Linked DNA regions of Homo sapiens: region 2 is linked to region 1. A link means that fine-mapping ties the variant in region 1 to the plasma level of a protein whose gene starts in the linked region. Region 1 holds a variant in brackets. A gene starts in the other region. All regions are shown on their reverse strands.

What was found. PIP is the chance, under the fine-mapping model, that this variant and not a neighbour inherited with it causes the effect. Protein levels are from antibody-based Olink assays in UK Biobank. Linkage for the fine-mapping came from a reference panel and not from the study's own genotypes, which makes the PIPs less certain.
Region 2: it holds the start of VWC2, and the variant in region 1 is fine-mapped to the plasma level of the VWC2 protein (UK Biobank, PIP above 0.99).

What each region holds. Positions count from the first base shown.
Region 1 is chr3:52,816,696-52,825,697 of GRCh38, reverse strand. It overlaps ITIH4 (inter-alpha-trypsin inhibitor heavy chain 4), which reads left to right. Exons shown (of 24, transcript NM_002218.5): 7 at 740-856; 8 at 1,133-1,301; 9 at 1,383-1,508; 10 at 1,694-1,875; 11 at 1,957-2,142; 12 at 4,568-4,707; 13 at 4,913-5,067; 14 at 5,381-5,407; 15 at 5,708-5,758; 16 at 5,906-5,944; 17 at 6,180-6,305; 18 at 7,162-7,236; 19 at 7,415-7,441; 20 at 7,530-7,646; 1 more. It overlaps ITIH4-AS1 (ITIH4 antisense RNA 1), which reads right to left and starts at 1,763. Exons shown (of 3, transcript NR_046615.1): 1 at 1,705-1,763; 2 at 1,361-1,586; 3 at 384-493. RefSeq lists a silencer at 1,282-1,439 and an enhancer at 5,085-6,073. The variant G/A (reference allele first, on the strand shown) is at 1,774.
Region 2 is chr7:49,765,518-49,774,499 of GRCh38, reverse strand. VWC2 (von Willebrand factor C domain containing 2) reads right to left here and starts at 862. Exons shown (of 4, transcript NM_198570.5): 1 at 387-862. RefSeq lists an enhancer at 7,244-7,493.

The DNA.
Region 1 (9,002 bases):
AGGTTTGTCTCTGAGAAGAGCTGCCCTGTGGGGTTTCCCTCTTTGCCTCTGCTGCTGGGAGGCTCACAACTCAGTTTTATGCAGATTTGCAGTAGTTTCTTTCACACTAGTTTCTGGCATTATTATTGTTGTTATATTTTGGTATGATCATGGCTCACTGCACCGTCAAACTCCCAGGTTCAAAAGAAACTCCTGCCTCGGCCTCCCTAGTAGCTGGGACTACAGGCGTGCACCACCACACCTGGCTAATTTTTTTTTTTTTTTTTCCAGTAGAGACAAGGTTGCCCAGGCTGGTCTTGAATTCCTGGGCTCAAGTGATCCTCCCACCTAAGCCTCCCAAAGTGCTGGAATTACAGGCGTGATTCACCACACCCAGCCATTTCTGCCATTGTTATTATACTTCCCTTTTACTCCATGTTTTTGAAGTCTTCCCTCTTTTGATGGTTGTCAGGTTTATGATGTCTGAACTTTTTAGTATAAACCATCTGAAATACTAAAACAAATAGAAGGAAAAGTTGCAGGGAGAGTTCTGGTGGGCTATGCATGAGCAGGGAAGGCTTCCGCAAGAAAGGGGCTGGTCTGAGCCCTGAAAAAGGGCAAGGTTTTGGGGAGGTTAGCAGTGGGATGGAAATGGGATTGGAACAGAGCACAGAAACCCAGAATTTGGGGTAAAGGGGCTGAATGGGGATAGGGCCAATTGTAGCTCTGATGGCCTGGGTGGGTCTCACTCTGGCCACAGATCGAGAACGGCTACTTTGTACACTACTTTGCCCCCGAGGGCCTAACCACAATGCCCAAGAATGTGGTCTTTGTCATTGACAAGAGCGGCTCCATGAGTGGCAGGAAAATCCAGCAGGTAGGTCCTGTGGCCCAGGGCAGGGCCCTGAAAACTCCCAGGCCCTTCACGCTATCAGCTGTGGTCCGGCAGGCAGACCCCCTTGCTTCACCTTTCGGCACCATGGGGCGGGTGGCTCTCAGGAACCAAGGTTGGCCAGAGCCTAGGGCAGCCCCTGTTCCTAGAGCAGATACCATGACCTCACCCCTGAGACAGGAGTCCAAGGATGCCAGCCCTAGGGCACACGAGCCCTCAGGGAGCCCTTCTGAAGCACCTATGTTTCCTCTCCCTGACCAGACCCGGGAAGCCCTAATCAAGATCCTGGATGACCTCAGCCCCAGAGACCAGTTCAACCTCATCGTCTTCAGTACAGAAGCAACTCAGTGGAGGCCATCACTGGTGCCAGCCTCAGCCGAGAACGTGAACAAGGCCAGGAGCTTTGCTGCGGGCATCCAGGCCCTGGGAGGTAAGTGTCTCTGTGGCCCTGCAGGGTGGGGGCTTCCAGGGCTCCTGGCTGGGGACCACCTTGAGAGTGCGTGTTCCTCAGGGACCAACATCAATGATGCAATGCTGATGGCTGTGCAGTTGCTGGACAGCAGCAACCAGGAGGAGCGGCTGCCCGAAGGGAGTGTCTCACTCATCATCCTGCTCACCGATGGCGACCCCACTGTGGGTGAGGGCCCTGCCCGTGACTCCAGGACGTGCTGCACAGGGGAGGCGGCTGGGGCTGCACCTGGGCTTGCTGTGGGATCTGGGCAGGGAGAGGGGGTCACTGAGGCCCCTCGGCTCTGAGGTTCCAGAAATATTCTTCAAGCAAATCACTATTTTCTCACCCTCATCCCAAACCCCTGGGTCCAGGGGAGACTAACCCCAGGAGCATCCAGAATAACGTGCGGGAAGCTGTAAGTGGCCGGTACAGCCTCTTCTGCCTGGGCTTC[G/A]GTTTCGACGTCAGCTATGCCTTCCTGGAGAAGCTGGCACTGGACAATGGCGGCCTGGCCCGGCGCATCCATGAGGACTCAGACTCTGCCCTGCAGCTCCAGGTGCCAGTGTGCCCCAGGTGGGCTGCACAGAGAAGTGGGCAGTCATAAAGCCCAGCCTTTATGACACCCCCAACCCTGCAGGACTTCTACCAGGAAGTGGCCAACCCACTGCTGACAGCAGTGACCTTCGAGTACCCAAGCAATGCCGTGGAGGAGGTCACTCAGAACAACTTCCGGCTCCTCTTCAAGGGCTCAGAGATGGTGGTGGCTGGGAAGCTCCAGGACCGGGGGCCTGATGTGCTCACAGCCACAGTCAGTGGGAAGCTGGTGAGTGTGGCCAAAGCCACCCTGGAGGGGAATGGCAGCCTCCACCTCTGCAGCCAGAGGGGCTGGACTCAAATCCCAGACCTGCCCAGCTCCAGCTTTCCCCTCTGCTGCCTGTGGATGACACAGGGGCATGGCAGGGATTCAATGAGACAATGGAGTGATTCTCATGAGACCAGCACATACAGGCTCTCGGCAGCCGGTCTGTGCACCTGCAAGCACAGGTGAGGGCAGGGATTCCTCCCTAGTTGTCATCCCTTCCTGTCCTGGTACCACAACCCTCTCAGGTTGCAGTCAGACAGGGAGGGCTGCTCCTATTTCACAAATGAGCAGACTGAGCTCCAGGCAGGGCAGGCAGCTTTCCCCGGGCCCCACTGCAACCAGGCCAAGAGCCCAGCTTGCCACGTGGCACCCTGTCCTTGCCCAGCCTTCCCTGCCTCCTTCCAGGGACCCCCTGTCATTTCCACAAAGAGAAACTGAGCACAAGCTCTGCGGCAGGGCCTTCTTCAGGCCCTGGGATGCAGCAGTGAATGAGGCTGACCCCTCCGTGCCCTCATGGGAGAGACAACCCAAGGACATATCACCACACAAACCAGCTACAGGCTGGGATCTAACCCTGGACTCAGGAGAGCAGCACCAGGAGCCCCAGCCTGGCCTGGGGATCAGGGAGGGCTTCCTGGAGGAGGCCCAGCAGAGACAAAAGGATAAGTAGGAGGTGGGAAGAGTCCAGATGGGGCAATGGAGGAATATGTTAGGCCCCTGTGGCATGAGGGCAGCGTGTGTGAAGAGAATAGGAGTGGGCGTTGGGGGCCCATGGCCTTGTTTCAGGACAAGTCCCCAAGTGTCATGACTGTTGGTACGGTCTGCGTGGCCACCCTGCCTGGCTTCAAACCCAGCTCTGCCACCTCCCAGATAGGAGACATGGAGAAGTCACTTAACCTCCATCTACTGCAGTTTCCTCCTATGTAAACATGGGAATAAGTCGCATGCCCCCCTCATAAAGTCACTGTGATTGATGTCCAGTGATAAGCACTCCATACATGTCAGCAGGTGATTTAGCTTGGAGGCCGTGGGTTCCCAAAGTACAGAACCCAAGGTGACTCAGGGGAGTTCACAGACAGACATGGCTTGTTTTAGTGGTTATTTACTTATTTTAATGTGTATTCTGAAAAATATGACCTGAACTTCAGACCTAAGATTTTTTTTTTTATTTTTTGAGATGGAGTCTCGCTCTGTCTCCCAGGCTGGAGTGCAGTGGTTGGATCTCGGCTCATTGCAAGCTCCACCTCCCAGGTTCACACCATTCTCCTGCCTCAGCCTCCCAAGTAGCTGGGACTACCAGCATCCACCACCACACCCGGCTAATTTTTTGTATTTTTAGTAGAAAGGGAGTTTCACCTTGTTAGCCAGGATGGTCTCGGTCTCCTGACCTCGTGATCTGCCCACCTTGGCCTCCCAAAGTGCTGGGATTACAGGCGTGAGCCACCGCACCTGGCCCAGATCTAAGATTTTATGGACATAAAGCCAAGTAAAAATTGTTAGCTTACTTAAAGTTCATTTAAGGAAAAATATCAATTAAATAGCTGTATGTGTGGATGGGGCAAAATTCATGCAGGTAGCCTATGTGTGCCAAAGCTTTGGAAAGCCAGCCAGGCTCTGGGCGAGAGACAGGCTGCTCCAGTGGGAGCAGACCGCAGATCTGATCCGCACTGTGAAAAGGTCTCTTGGCCACTCAGGGAGCTCTGGTGGGAGAGGCCTGGGATTCCTCTGCCCTAGGAGCCCATTTCCCAGGCAGCGAGCTAGGTCAGTCTGAGACCACAGGCCCCTCCCTGAGGGAGGAGGGAGCAGGTTCACACAGAGCTTGGGTGCATGCTTCCCTGTCATTGTCCCACGGTGGCCAGCCGCAGAGGGGCCAGCTTGGACAGGGACAGCCGTTGGGGTGGATGGGGCCCCAAACCCGGAGCCATGACATCTGAGTTGTGTTCTCAACTCTGCCTCTGACCCCTGGGAAGGTCCTTCCCTCTCTGTCCCTTTCCCTCAGCTTTGGGGGTAAGGGCAGGCTGTAGCTAGACCCTTCCTGCTCCACACTGCACTTGCAAATCCTTCCTGCTGCTGTTTCTACACTGGCCTGGGGTTCCCATCCCTTTCTTCCAGAGGTTTGGCTGATCTGAGTCCTGGCGCTGTGCCTGCCTTATTGTATCTGGGCTACTTTGCTACCTTTTCACCTCCTTCTCATCCCTGTATGCTCTGTGACTGAGCCCCTTGCACCCCTAAGCCCCCTCCTTACCCCCACTCAAAGGAAATGCAGTCCCCACAGTCAGTGTGTGGGACCTGCCCCAGCCCCAATCATGGAAGAGCTCAGAAGTGCCAGGCAGATGCAGATGTCCGGCCCTCACTGCTCCTGCCCTGGCTGGGCCCCTCTTTCCAGCCTACACAGAACATCACTTTCCAAACGGAGTCCAGTGTGGCAGAGCAGGAGGCGGAGTTCCAGAGCCCCAAGTATATCTTCCACAACTTCATGGAGAGGCTCTGGGCATACCTGACTATCCAGCAGCTGCTGGAGCAAACGTGAGTGCATCAGCACCTCCCTAAGCCTGTCGCTAGGGGGCAGGCACAGGTGGCACGGTACAGCGCCTAAGCATGGAGAGAGGGGGGTCTTGGCATCATGTCCAAGCTCCAGATTCTCCCAGAGGGACCTCCCCAGAAGGGGCTGGATGGAAAATCTGTTCCCGAATTCAAGGATCTCCTGAGCTCTGATGTGCTCCACCTACAGTGTCTCCGCATCCGATGCTGATCAGCAGGCCCTCCGGAACCAAGCGCTGAATTTATCACTTGCCTACAGCTTTGTCACGCCTCTCACATCTATGGTAGTCACCAAACCCGATGACCAAGAGCAGTCTCAAGTTGCTGAGAAGCCCATGGAAGGCGGTGGGTGTGGGGTTGAGATCTCAGCCTCCCAGGTAGCAGAGTTTGGACCCAGCGTTCTCCCCGATCTTCCCTGCATCCTGACCAAGACCCCAACCGTGCCCCCAACAGACTCCCCCTGGGAGATTCAGCCTATTCACTGATGAGGAAAGTGAAGCCGGGTCTCCTGTCTCCCCAAATTCATTGCACCTACGATATAGTCCAGGATTGGGTAGCAAGATTAAACACAAGCGCTTCAAATTGATGAAAACCACCCTGACGGTGTCTGTCTGTGTCTCTGTCTGTCTGTCTCTCTCTCTCTCTTTGTTTTATCCAGAAAGTAGAAACAGGAATGTCCACTCAGGTAAGCAGCGAACATCCTCAAAGGCTGTGCTGGGTGGTGGTCTGCTAACACAGGGTCCAGGGCACCAGCCCTGTGAGGTTGCTGGCCAGGGCCCAGGTCCACCCAGGCCTCTCCAGCCCATCCCTGCTGCCAGGAGGCAGTGTAATCTGACCCAGCATGCTGGTGCATTTAGTCGCCTGTGCATTCAAATATTGGCTGTGCCTCAGGCCCTGTCCCCAGCACTAAGAATACAGTCCCCATCCAAGTGGGGCCACAGGAAGGTGGGTGCAAGATGCAAACCCAGGTCCCACTGATTTCCAGGTTCCACTTTCTTCAAATATTATCTCCAGGGAGCAAAAATACCAAAACCAGGTGACAAAGTAGGAGGTGGGGGGAGGGGAGATTGACAGATTGGGCTCAGTCCTGGCTGTGGAGGGTAGTGCCTTGCCCAGCTCCTCTGGCTGGTGACAGCCCTCGGGCCTCAGTTCAGTTGTATCTGATCAGGACTTGACCACACAGAGGCTTCCTTTTCTCCAAGAAGAGGATGGAATAGACAAGGTAGTTTGAGGGTTTCTGCCAGGGGGAGGCATGACATCCCTGGGGGGGAGCTTGAGGGAGGTCCATTATTGTTCATCTCCCAGCTGTTGGGGGAGAGGCTCCCCAAGTTGGCCGGGTGTGGGGAGAGGGGACATAGCTGCCCTCTCCGCACCCACTCCTGGGTGGATCTCAAGCCCTGGCTGTGAAGACCCACACCCCACCTGAGAGAAGACTGCATCTGTCGATTTCTCCAAAGCTGGAGCTGCTGGCTCCCGGATGAATTTCAGACCTGGGGTTCTCAGCTCCAGGCAACTTGGACTCCCAGGACCTCCTGATGTTCCTGACCATGCTGCTTACCACCCCTTCCGCCGTCTGGCCATCTGTAAGCTGCCTTCCGGCCCTGCGAGGGCCTCGGTTTCCCACGGTGGTCCTTGAGCCTGCCCCATAGAGGGGGGTGGGGTAAAGCACGCACCACAGGGCCAGGCCAGGGACGGCTGCTGAGGGCACGATGTGAAGTAATTGTGGGTCAGTTCAACCTGGGATCATTTACTGGGGCTGGGGTGGGAGTGCATTTCCTAAGGAGGCTGTCCTCGCCTTCCCAGCTCTTTGCAGCTGCCCCCTGCCCCATCCTTAGCGTCTCATCTCCTCAGATGCGAGCTCACCCGGGTCCTTTAGCTGCCCCTAGGTTGTCAGACCACAGGCCATGACAGAGCAGCCTCTCCCACACTCCTTGTTCAGAGGGGACCCTAGGCCCTAAGAGGGGCACGGACTGGCCAAGCATGCACATCACAGCGCTCTTTGGAGCAGTCCTTGCCAGCTTCCTCTCTCTGAAGGCCCCTCTCCCCACTACCCAGTGTATGGACATCAGGCCTCCCCTCCCCAAGGCAGGACTTCACCTGTCCTTTACTTTCACTGAGTAGGATCCACTATACTCTAGAGGCTGACTCATGAGGAAACCTTCTAGGAAGGGAGGGCTTCCTCCGTTCAGAAAGCCAACAGAGGTCCCTTGAACTGTTTTCTGATCCCCAAATCTGCACTCGAATGCAGCTGCACAGCCAGGCTGGACCTATCCCTGACAGCATGCTCTTCTGTTTGAAAATCTCCTGTGACAAAGGCCATTCTAGGTGGAGTGTATGTGTGGCAGGATGGGGGGCTGGAGCTTGGTGGCAGCGCTGCTGGTTGCCCGCCTCCTGACTGCCTTCCTGCTCCCTTTCTGTTTCCGGATGTTCCTGCCCTAGTGCCTGCTTCAGCACCACCAGCCACCTCAAATCCTGATCCAGCTGTGTCTCGTGTCATGAATATGAAAATCGAAGGTGCCCCCAAGGCCAGAGGCCCTGTCCTAACAGGGGGATCCTGGGAGGGGAGTGACCTGTCACATGTCTCGATGTTGAAGTAGTGAGGGAACCCAGCCACACCTAGTCACTGCTCCCTCCCTCAACCTCCCACTCCTCAGGAAGGGGCTGCCTAAACCCAGACTTTTTCTTCTTTTAGAAACAACCATGACAACCCAAACCCCAGGTAAGTTCCCAGCCCCCTTGGCCCCTTTCCACATCCTTGCCCCCAGCCTGCCCTTCCTGCTCCAGGAGCCGTGCCCCGGCTGTCCCAGCCCCCATACAGGCTCCCTCTGCCATCCTGCCACTGCCTGGGCAGAGTGTGGAGCGGCTCTGTGTGGACCCCAGACACCGCCAGGGGCCAGTGAACCTGCTCTCAGACCCTGAGCAAGGTGAGAGAGGCACACCCAGAGAGACCCAGACACCACTGGCACACACCCACCACCTGCCTACAGAGACACACACAGCGCGTGCAGGCTGGCCCCACACAGGCCCCTCCCAGATCATAGCATGGTCCTGCCTCCCAGTGCTGGCATGGGCACACACTCACACAGACACCCCGGGGACCTTCCACTGGGCACCTTGTGTGCAGGTGTGGGTGGCCAAGGCACAGATAAGCATGGCAGCCATGTGGAGGTGAGCCTAGAGGAGGAGCCAGGGTGGGGCAAGGGTCAGGGGAGCTGCCTGGGGTCACACAGGGATGGCAGGGCCATGGCGGGTGCACAGAGACCAGCATGAGGATGTTCCAGATGATGGAGGAGTTAGTGCCTGCAGAGTACAGAGCCCCAAAAGATGAGACCTAGAAGGTGTGGATGAGGGGAATGGCAGGAAGAGACAGGGGTGCTGGCTGGGCCCTGCCCCTTCAATCCTGGACCAGACATGGGGACACACTCCACTCAGCAGTGCTCACCCCCGCACCGCCCAGCCCCGCTCAAAGCCAAGGGACATCCATGGCTTTCTCATTCCTCAGATGCATGTGTCACCCACTTCCTCACTCAGGCTAGGAATGTCTTTCCTGAGGGCAGGGAGCACCAATTCTCCATCTTACCCTTGGCCGCGGCATCTAGCTCAGGGCCAGGCGCTCCATGGGGCGTTCTGAAGGCTTATTGACTGGAGACAAGTTAATTCTCAAAGGCCTCAACTGAGGGTGGCCGTCGCCGAGGATTTAGGGGCCCCTCCAAAGCCTTAGACACCAAGGGACAAGTGGAGAGATTGTGGGAGCCAGCCCCCAGTGTGAAGGAGTGCTGAGAAAGGGGCACCCCTCCTGATGAGGGAGGGAGCTGCTGCAGAACTCCAGGGGGTGTGATCAGGGGGGACTCCCCATGCAGGTCGGTGTCAGACCTGGCTGGGGCCCAGCTATGACCTCTCTGGTCTGGTCCTCCCAGGGGTTGAGGTGACTGGCCAGTATGAGAGGGAGAAGGCTGGGTTCTCATGGATCGAAGTGACCTTCAAGAACCCCCTGGTATGGGTTCACGCATCCCCTGAACACGTGGTGGTGACTCGGAACCGAAGAAGCTCTGCGTACAAGTGGAAGGAGACGCTATTCTCAGTGATGCCCGGGTAAGGCCCAGGCTGGAGCCCGGGGCAGGGGTTGACCTTTCAGGCTACAGTGGCTGATGATGGTACCAGCAGGTGGCCTGAGGCCATGGACCTGAGAATGGAGCAGCTACACTCACAGGAGGGGCAAAGAGACAAGAGCCCTGCCATATACCCCTGCAGCTCCGGAGGGCACTGAGGAGTTGTCCCAG
Region 2 (8,982 bases), not on the chromosome of region 1:
CGCTGGATCCCGGCCAGCCTTTCTGGATTCCAAAGTTTCTGCCGCCCAAAGGGGCTGGGAGAGCCCGAGACGCCGCAGGACACCGGCAATCCAGCCTCTCTCCGCCTCACTCCCCGAACGCCCCCACTCTGCGCACTCCGGTGCGTCTGTCCCCTCCCCCTCAGCCCTCCTCCCTGAGGGCTCCGGACGTGCCCGGCCCTGCTGACCCCCTGCCCGGTCCCTGCCGACCTCAACACTGGGCGAAGCGCCCATATTCACAAACTTGGGCGGGGGAGGGGGTTCCTCCGGAGCAGCTGAGCGGCTGAACCCAGCTGGAGCGCGTCCGGCCGCGCGGGGACACCCAGCATGCACCCTCAGCCCTGAAGACCGGCGCCAAACCTACATACATGAGCGCAGGGCGCGGGCCGGACGCCGGGCTCGCAGCGGGCGCAGGGGTAGCAGCGGCGGGCGCGGGCCCGGGTTGCCAGCGCCCATCCTGGGCCGGCCGGCGACCCGCGTGGGGCGGACCACTAACAGCCCAGCCCCACCTGCGCGCTCCGCCTGGCGCGCACACCGGGCTAGGGCGTCTCTGGGGAGTCGCTCATCGCGCTGTCAGCTGCCGGTAGTCGCGGCCCCAACTCGCGTCAGTGCCCGCGTCGCCCTCAGTCGCTCATCCTCCGGCCTCGTCCCCGCTTCTCCGAGACCAAGCGCGCCCCGGGGGCCACCCTGGCGCCGCCTCGCTCCTCTCCGCGGAGGGGTTCGGGGAGCTCTCCAGACCCGGCAGCCGGAATGTCTGGGCAGCCGTGGCGCGTCGGAGGGAAAAGAGAAGCCCGGAGCGCGGCCGGCGCGCGAGTGGCACCGAGGCCAGCATGGGAGCTAGCGCGCCCGCCTCCCGCCTCCCCCTGCCGCAGCCGCCTCCGCCCGGCTCCCGTTCCGCTCCCTCCTCTGCTGCCCCCGCTCTGGAGGCCCCGCCTTGGCCCGCGCTGCCCCGGGGGAGGCCCTCGCGCTGCCCCCGGAGAGGCCCTACCGCCGCACCCGCTCCCTTTGCTGCGCCGGACCAACCTGTCACTCGTCCGCGCGGCCGCGTCCCCACCTCCGCAGCCGGCCGCAGACCCTGCCAGGGCTGCCATTCTCCAGTCGAGTCATTCACTTTGCGCTGGACCTTTCATCTTGGCTTTTCTCTTTTCTTTAATTTCTTCCTTCCTAATTGGCCCCCTCTGGCTTTCCTCTTTGTGGACAGCTTGTTTCAGCTACTGTGTTCAGATTGGGATTCGAAGGCCGTGTTAGTTTAGCAGACTGTTGAGACTTTCTCGTCTTTGCATTCAGAAACCCAGAGAAATAGACGTTTACGAGTAAGAAACGTAAAAATCTCAAGCGCGAACTTTCTGAATCTCTGCCAATCTCTCCCCGCTCCCATCTTCCTCTTTCTGCCTGCTCTCTCTTCTACTACAAATAGAAACCTGTTTCCTAACTTTGCTAGAATCCTCAACTGTTAAGCAGAGGCCCGGTTGTTTTTACTCTTTGATCTTGTGTAAACGAGAAAACGTCAATAGTACCTGTTCAAATTAATCCCCGAAATTGAATTTTCATGGAAATGGCCCATGGCAGTGGTTCCCACTCACGGCATTTTAGAATCCCTGAAAGTGCTCGGACGGTAAACAGATAAGCTTCCCTGCAAGGTCAGGCGCTCTGGCTGGTGGGAACTGGGGAGGCTGGTTTGGGACACAGTTATGTCTATCTTTTAATAGTATAGACAAACAAATCTTAGCTGAGGTGCTAGGGAGCCCTCCTTGAAAGCCTGAGAAGGCTGCCCCTCCACCCCCTCCAACACATACACAACCAACAGGGCTGGATGGAGGATTTCTTTCTCTCTCTCTCTCTCTTTTTTTTTTTTTTCAGACGGAGTCTCGCTCTGTGGCCTAGCCTGGAGCGCAGTGGCGCGATCTCCACTTACTGCAAGCTCGATTCCCGGGTTCATGCCTTTCTGCCGCCTCAGCCTCCTGAGTAGCTGGGACTACAGTCGTCCGCCATCACCCCCAGCTAATTTTGTTTTTGTATTTTTAGTGAGACGGGGTTTCACCATGTTGGACATGATGGTCTCGATCTCCGGACCTCGTGATCCTCCTGCCTCGGTCTCCCAAAATGCTGGTGAGCCACCGCGCCTGGCCTGGATGGAGGATTTCTATGTACAGGATGATTTGAGCCCTTCTGCTGTTTCAGTTCTCACTCTCATTTTTCCTTTTTTTTTTTTTTTTAATGTTTTAGAGACACGATCTCACTTTGTCACCCAGGCTTCAGTGCAGTGGCATGATCACGGCCCACTGCAGCCTCAAACTCCTGCCTCAGACTCCGGAGGAGCTGGGTGTACAGGTCACCACACAGGGCTAATTTTTTGTTTGTTTGTTTTGTTTTGTTTCGTTTAGGTTTTTTCTTTTGTTTTTTTTTTGTTTTTTTTTTTTGGTAGAGATGGGATCTTGCTTTGTTGCCCAGGCTTGTCTTGAACTCCTGGCCTCAAATGATCCACCCGGCCTCTCAAAGTGCTGGGATTACAGGTGTGAGCCACCACACTCGGCCCTTTCGTTTCTTGTTACCCTCAGAAAAGAGACAGGCCACATTTGCTGTGGCTGCAGCTGCCTACCCACCCACCTGCCTCTCATCACATGCTCTAATCAGTTATGGCTTCTGTGTCTTTATGATGCTCTAATCCAAATATCACACCTTTCACAACACCACCAAAATAAAAACACGGCTCGAGGTGTGATCATATGTAATGTGCAAAATGGGCCCTCGGTTCTATAAAATCAAGTGCTTTTATAGCATTGGTTAGGCTACAAATTTTGTTATTTGACTTATTAGCTAATTCTGTTCTTGTCATTAAACATCCTGTTTGTTTTGTTTTGCCAACAGTACTCTCATGTGGTTACGATGGGGTAGCCCCAAACACATGTGACTAATAAGAACGAAACAGTAACATTATGTGTCCAGGATTCTAACTGAAAAATTGATTGGGGGCTCAGCTGAGGAAATAATGATGTCCCTTTATTAATCCCACCTCAATCACCGGTCTCTCTGAATCAGAAACTTCTTGTCCCAGCCAGCTGCTTCCAGTAGAGAGCCATGAATATGAGATAGCCAAGTTTTCAAGAAGAGGCCTGACAAAACTGAGGATGAATTAAGTGACCAAGTGTCCAAATGGCTTTGTTCTGTTAGATATTCTCAGAGATAGTGTTACAGGCCTGATAGAATGAGGGAGGAAAGCAGTTTCCAAGGGATTGCTGTCCTTTGTGAAGAAGAGCAATACCCATGCAGCTTGATGAGCTGAGTAATTCGAGAAAATATAGGGGACTTTGCAGGCGTTGAAGGAATATACAATTTATTTATTGCCAGTGCAATGAATTGTTGCGATTAACTTTTCTTCTTTCCTTCCTTCTTTGTTCCTTTCTTTCCTTCCTTCCTTCCCTTTGCCCTCCTTCTCCCCTTTCTCCCTCCCTCCTCCGTCTCTCTCCTTTTCCTCTTTCTCTCCCTCATTTCTTTCCTTCTTTCCTTTATTCCCTCCCTCCCTCTTTCCTTTCTTCCTTTCCACTTATTTTCCTTTTCCTTGCTTTCCTTTCCCTTCTCTTCCCATCCCCCCTTTTTCCCTTCCCTTCCCTTCACTTCCCTCCCCTCCCCCTCCCCTCCCTTCCCCTCCCCTCCCCTCCCTTCCCCTCCCCTCCCCTCCCTTCCTCTCTCCTTCCCTTCCCTTTCCCTTCTCTTTCTCTCCACTTCCCCTTGTTCTTCCCCTTCCCTTTTGCTTTTCCCTTCCTCTTTACTTTTCCATCCTTTCCTTTTTTCCAGGCTAGAGTGCAAGGCAGGAGCAGAAAGATCTCTGGTCAGGGACTGAAGTGACATGAGTGTAATCCAAGTTCCACCAGGGGCCAGTTTTGCAACTTTGAACAAGTCACTCAGTGTTACAGGCTCTTTGTTTTCTCACCTTTAAAAGGGAAGAGAGAGGATCTCTGAATGAATAGGAAGCCCAAAGCACTCTAGGAATATAGCACATTTCTGCTTTCATGCCCCGTTTTAACTGAGTTTGTTGCTTCCATTTTCTTCCTGTGTGCAAGAGTTAAATCCATCTGCTGAGGTACAGTCATATTTAGTAGCCGGTGTGAGAGTCTGAGCTTGGCCACAGGGCCAACCCTGAGCAATGCAGAGCAAGTGGGTTCCAGGCAGGATTCTAGGCCAGTCACCTTTCCTGTCCCTTTTGGCAGAATTAATCTTACCTTTATTTTCTCCCCAGAGAGTGGTTTATGTCTCTTGTAACAGTTAACTTTTTATGTCAACTTTTTTTATGTCCCTTAAACTTTTTTTTAATGTCAACTTTTTTTATGTCAACTGTTTTTTTAATGTCCCTTATAACAGTCAACTTTTTCATAGCTCTGCATTATCTGTACTCACCTCTGAAATGGTTGCTTATTTAAGGGCAATGGCTATGCTTTATTCATCCTTCTATTCTTAGAGCCAATAGGACCAATTGAGGAGGGAAAGGGAAAAGGAGGGAAGGAAGCAGCAATAGAAGGAGGGAAGGAAAGAAGGAGGGAGGGAGGGAGGGGAGAAAGAAAGGGAAGGCAATTCAGAGGGAGGGAGAGAAGAAATGCGAGGGAGGGAGAGAAGAAGAGCAAGGGAGGGAAGAAGGGAGAGAGGAAGGAAGGAAAGAGGGAAGGGAGGGAGGAAGAAAGGAAGTAAAGAAAGAGAAGAAGGTAGTGAGGGATGGAAAGAGGTAGAGAGGGAATGGGGGAGGGAAAGAAGAAGGATGAAAGAGAGGGAAAAAATGTAGGAAGGAAGGAAAGAAAGAATGAGGGAAGAGAAGAAAGGAAAGGGAAAGAAGGAAGGAATGAAGAGAGGGCAGGAGGAAGAGAAGAATTGAGGAAAAGAGGAAGGAAGAGAGAAAGTAAGAAGAGAGGGAAGAAGGAAAGGAAGGGAGGAAGGGAAAGAGGGAAGGAACAAAGAAGATAGGGAAAAGGAAGAAAAGAAAGATGAGAAGAAGAAGGATTGAAGAAAGGGAAGAAGGAAGGAAGGAGGGAAAGAAGAAGGATGGAAGAGGGAGGGAGGGAAGGAAGGAAAGCCAGAATTAGGAGAAATTCACTTATTATTTATACAATATTGGGCAAGTTCACAACCATCTCATTCAGTTTCTTACAATACTACTAGTCTTAGCAACCATTACTGTTTTTCATTTTGCCCATGGGAAACCATGCCTGAAAGAGGTTGAGACTTGACTAAGGTTACCCAGCTAATAAGGCAAGTGCCTGGTTGACAGTGACACCTGTGACTGCACTCCCAGTGTCCTGTCCCAGTACAGCTCCACTGCTGTCTCCTCCAAGTGGGCTGTGGCTCTATGACTTACTATTCTGGATTAACTGGCTCTCCCCAGCTTCTCTATCCAGCCAGAACTGCACGACCTCATGCACTAGGCCTTATATTCATCACAGCAGAGAAGCAACAGGTCATGCAAGGACCAGAGTGGGTTGTAGGGGCCTCGGGGGCAGTCCTGAGATGTCACTCCATCTTCATGTCCTCAGGCCAGGACCCCCTCTAACAGGGACTCATGTTTGCCCACGAATGAGAGAACACATTAACACATGCATGGCTGAGAAAGGATCCCTTGATGGATATTATACCAGACCCTGAGGAAGAAGAGTCAAGGAGCAGGTTTGCCTGGGAGGAAAACACAAGGGACCATGCCCCGGGAGGAGAGGCACCTCAGGGCACCCATTTGCAAATGAAATAGAAGAGAGGTAAGGAGCTCAGGTGTGCTCACAGAAGGATGAGACAAGGTCATCTGCTGCAACTGAGGGTGCCAGCTGCTTATGGTTTGAAAGTGGAAAAGAGACTGTGTGGAATAAAACATAAACGAAGTTAGGATGACTGCAGACCTGACCAGGAAACCAAGAAGGCCTTAATGGAACGCAGATCCAGCAAGGGAACCTTGCATATTTGCTCTATGGGGAGAACTGCTTGGGATGCCAAGGTGAGCCAGCTTTACAGGTGGCAGTGGAGAGAACTGGCAGACTGCTGCCACACCTCACCTTTACAGGTGAGGAGACAGTGTGGCTGCCCTGGGGAAGGAGGGCCTCCTGGGGACTGTGTGTTCCAGGCACAGCAGCTGCAGCAGTGTCTGCAGAAAACACAAAGGGCTCCCCACTCCTGCTCATGCACTCACTCCTCCCGCTGACTGCAGATTGCCTGAGCCCAAGGAGAAGAACTTTCCTTCATTTAGTTCACACCTTTGGCAAAGCCATTTAACTTGAATTCTGGGCTTGGGCCAGTGAAGGAAATGCTTTGAAACCATCTTTGAGGGTTAGAGGGAATAAAAGCCACTTCCACCTGAAATCAAGGGTCAGCAGGATCGTTGTGGTTCAGGCAGAAAGGTGACCATTAATGAGTGGGAGAGGCCACTTTGGTGCTCAGATGGCTTTTTATGGATATACACAGAGCAGGCCTGGCTGTTAAGGGAGCCACTAATTAAAGTTCTGCCCTGGAACGAGCTACCAGTCGGCAGGGCAACAGCTCCATTACTGCTTCCCCTTTTGATACATGTCTGTGGTTGAGAATTACTGTTCCCTGGGCTGACCTGCCGCACATGCTGCCTGATTACAGCACACCTTGGGGACTCATGCCTTCTGCTACGATGCCAAAAGTCAGCAGCATCTGTTCAGATAATCAAATGGATGACTCACAGATATTCTTCTGAAATCAGTGGCAAAATCTTACTCCTTGAAAAGAGGTTTCCAGGGATCCATTTTTCGTAGACTATAAAGTCATCCACTGTACTGGTATCACAGACCCCATAGATGTGGACTAAAAAGAAGTTTCAGAAACAATTGTTGTGAAACAAAGGCCTATCAAAGTTTACTACTCTAAGAAGTACAATAAGCAGTTGGTTTAGAATGGTTGGAATTGCAGATGGCATAGCACTGTGCAATAGTGGGAAAGGATCTAGATCCATAAGGCAGAGGTAAGAAGCTTCGGGTTGCATTTTTAAAGCTGTTTCCTCCTCTTACCTTTGGAGAGTTCCAAAGGAGGAAATCTGTGGCTAGTGCTGCATGCCATGTGGCCCTATTTGGACAGGATTTTTCTTTGGAGTCAATAAAGGGAACCTGAAATCCACTCTGGAGCCCTTCTGAGTTGGGATGTGTTTTCTCCTGACTTCTCTGGCCCATGGTCTTCCCAGGAGCCAGACACTGGACCTGGCTGTGATACCACAAGAGATGGAGTATTATTTATACCCTGTGGTCTATGTAGGGGATGCTTTGCTTGGCTGAGCACAGCAGAAAGCAGTGCAGGAAGGGGAGGGTGTTTCCAGGTGGGCTCATAATGAGTCAGTGGCTAAGAGAAAAAAAAACAAACTCTATTTTTAATTTGCTTTCACACCATGACAATCAACACAGAAAACTTCTGTGGCCAAATGTTTGGGGATTACCCCCAACCATAAAGCAAGCAATCAGTTTTGCAGTAGACACCAGCTGGGTGTCCTTCAGTTCAATTCTGACTCCGTCTATCTGGAGATAGCCTCAGATCCCACAGGTTGGGAAATCAGTCCCCAAGACTGCTCCCACTTCTGATGCCAATCTCAAGGCCCAGGTTGTTTTACCTGTGCTTCTGAATGACTGGCTATAAATTGGGGATCCCATAAGCCCCCTTCTTTGGTTTGATTAATTTACTAGAGTGGCTCACAGAACTCAGGGAAAGACTTTGTTTACCAGTTTATTATAAAGGATATCACAAAGGATACAGATGAAGAGATGCATAGGGCAAGGTGTGGGGGAAAAGGCATGGAACTTCCATGCCCTCTCCAGGTCCCCACCCTCATAGGAACCACTGCACATTCAGCTATCCTGAAGCTCTTCAAATGCTATCCTTTTGGGTTTTTATGGAGGCTTCGTTAGGCAGGCATGTAGGTTAAATCATGACAGACTCATTAAAATACAAAAAGACATTACTCTGGGGACTCTAAAGATTTTAGCAGATATATGCTAGGAAGCAGAGTTGAAGACCAAATATGTATTTCATAATATCACAGGGGCACATGCATCTTTGGTGGAGAGTCAGGAAAGTGGGTCTCCCAGGATGGCTTATCTCCTTGGTCCCAAGCTTGTTGAGCTCTAGAATATTCCCTGGTGTGCCAAGGGGACTTTGAAATTCTCTGGGGCACCTCAATTCTTTCCCAAGTATCACTAGCTATATGGGATAATGGCAGAACCTGAGGATGGGAGGTACAAGGGATTCCCTCTGTAAACAGATGGTCAGGAACCTGACTTCTCCCTGACGCTGCTTGAAGCTCTGACACTGGGCCTCATACTTGGGCTGAGACAGTGGGTGTGTGCTTCAGAAGAATCCTGGTCTCATTGTCACAAGGAGGTAAGTCCTTGTTCCAAACGACTTCTTCATGGGATCTAAACATGAGAACATATAGATATCTAGGACTTACGGGACAAGGACAATGACAGTGACCACCCCTACTCTATCTCACTTCTGTATTTCTAGCATCTAGAGCATGTAGCATCTATAGCATGCAGCAGGGGCACAATAAATGTTTACCGGATGAATTAACAAAGAATCACAAAACGACATGACACAAAGTGCTTTTTCCTACATCTCCGGTTACCAACCCCCTCCACTCCCTCACCCCTCTCCCTAAGCTCCCCACCTCCTCAACACCAACCCACTAGGACTGTACTTAATCATGCAAAACAGTTCTGCAAATACACTGAGCCCTAGGACACTGAGGGAGCACAGGCCTCCGTACTTCTCTGCCATTTTCCAGGCTTTTCCAGGCACCACTTCACGCCCTCACTCAGGAACATGCTAGCTAAGTTTTATCTCCAGCTATTGAAAGAAACTCCTTCCTTTCAGCACCAGGCATAAATAAGCCTGAAATTTCTCTGTGGTTCTGGGCCAAGAATTCTTGTTATATCACTTTTCTCATACCTTATGCATCCTAATTATTCCATACTCCCTAGTGAT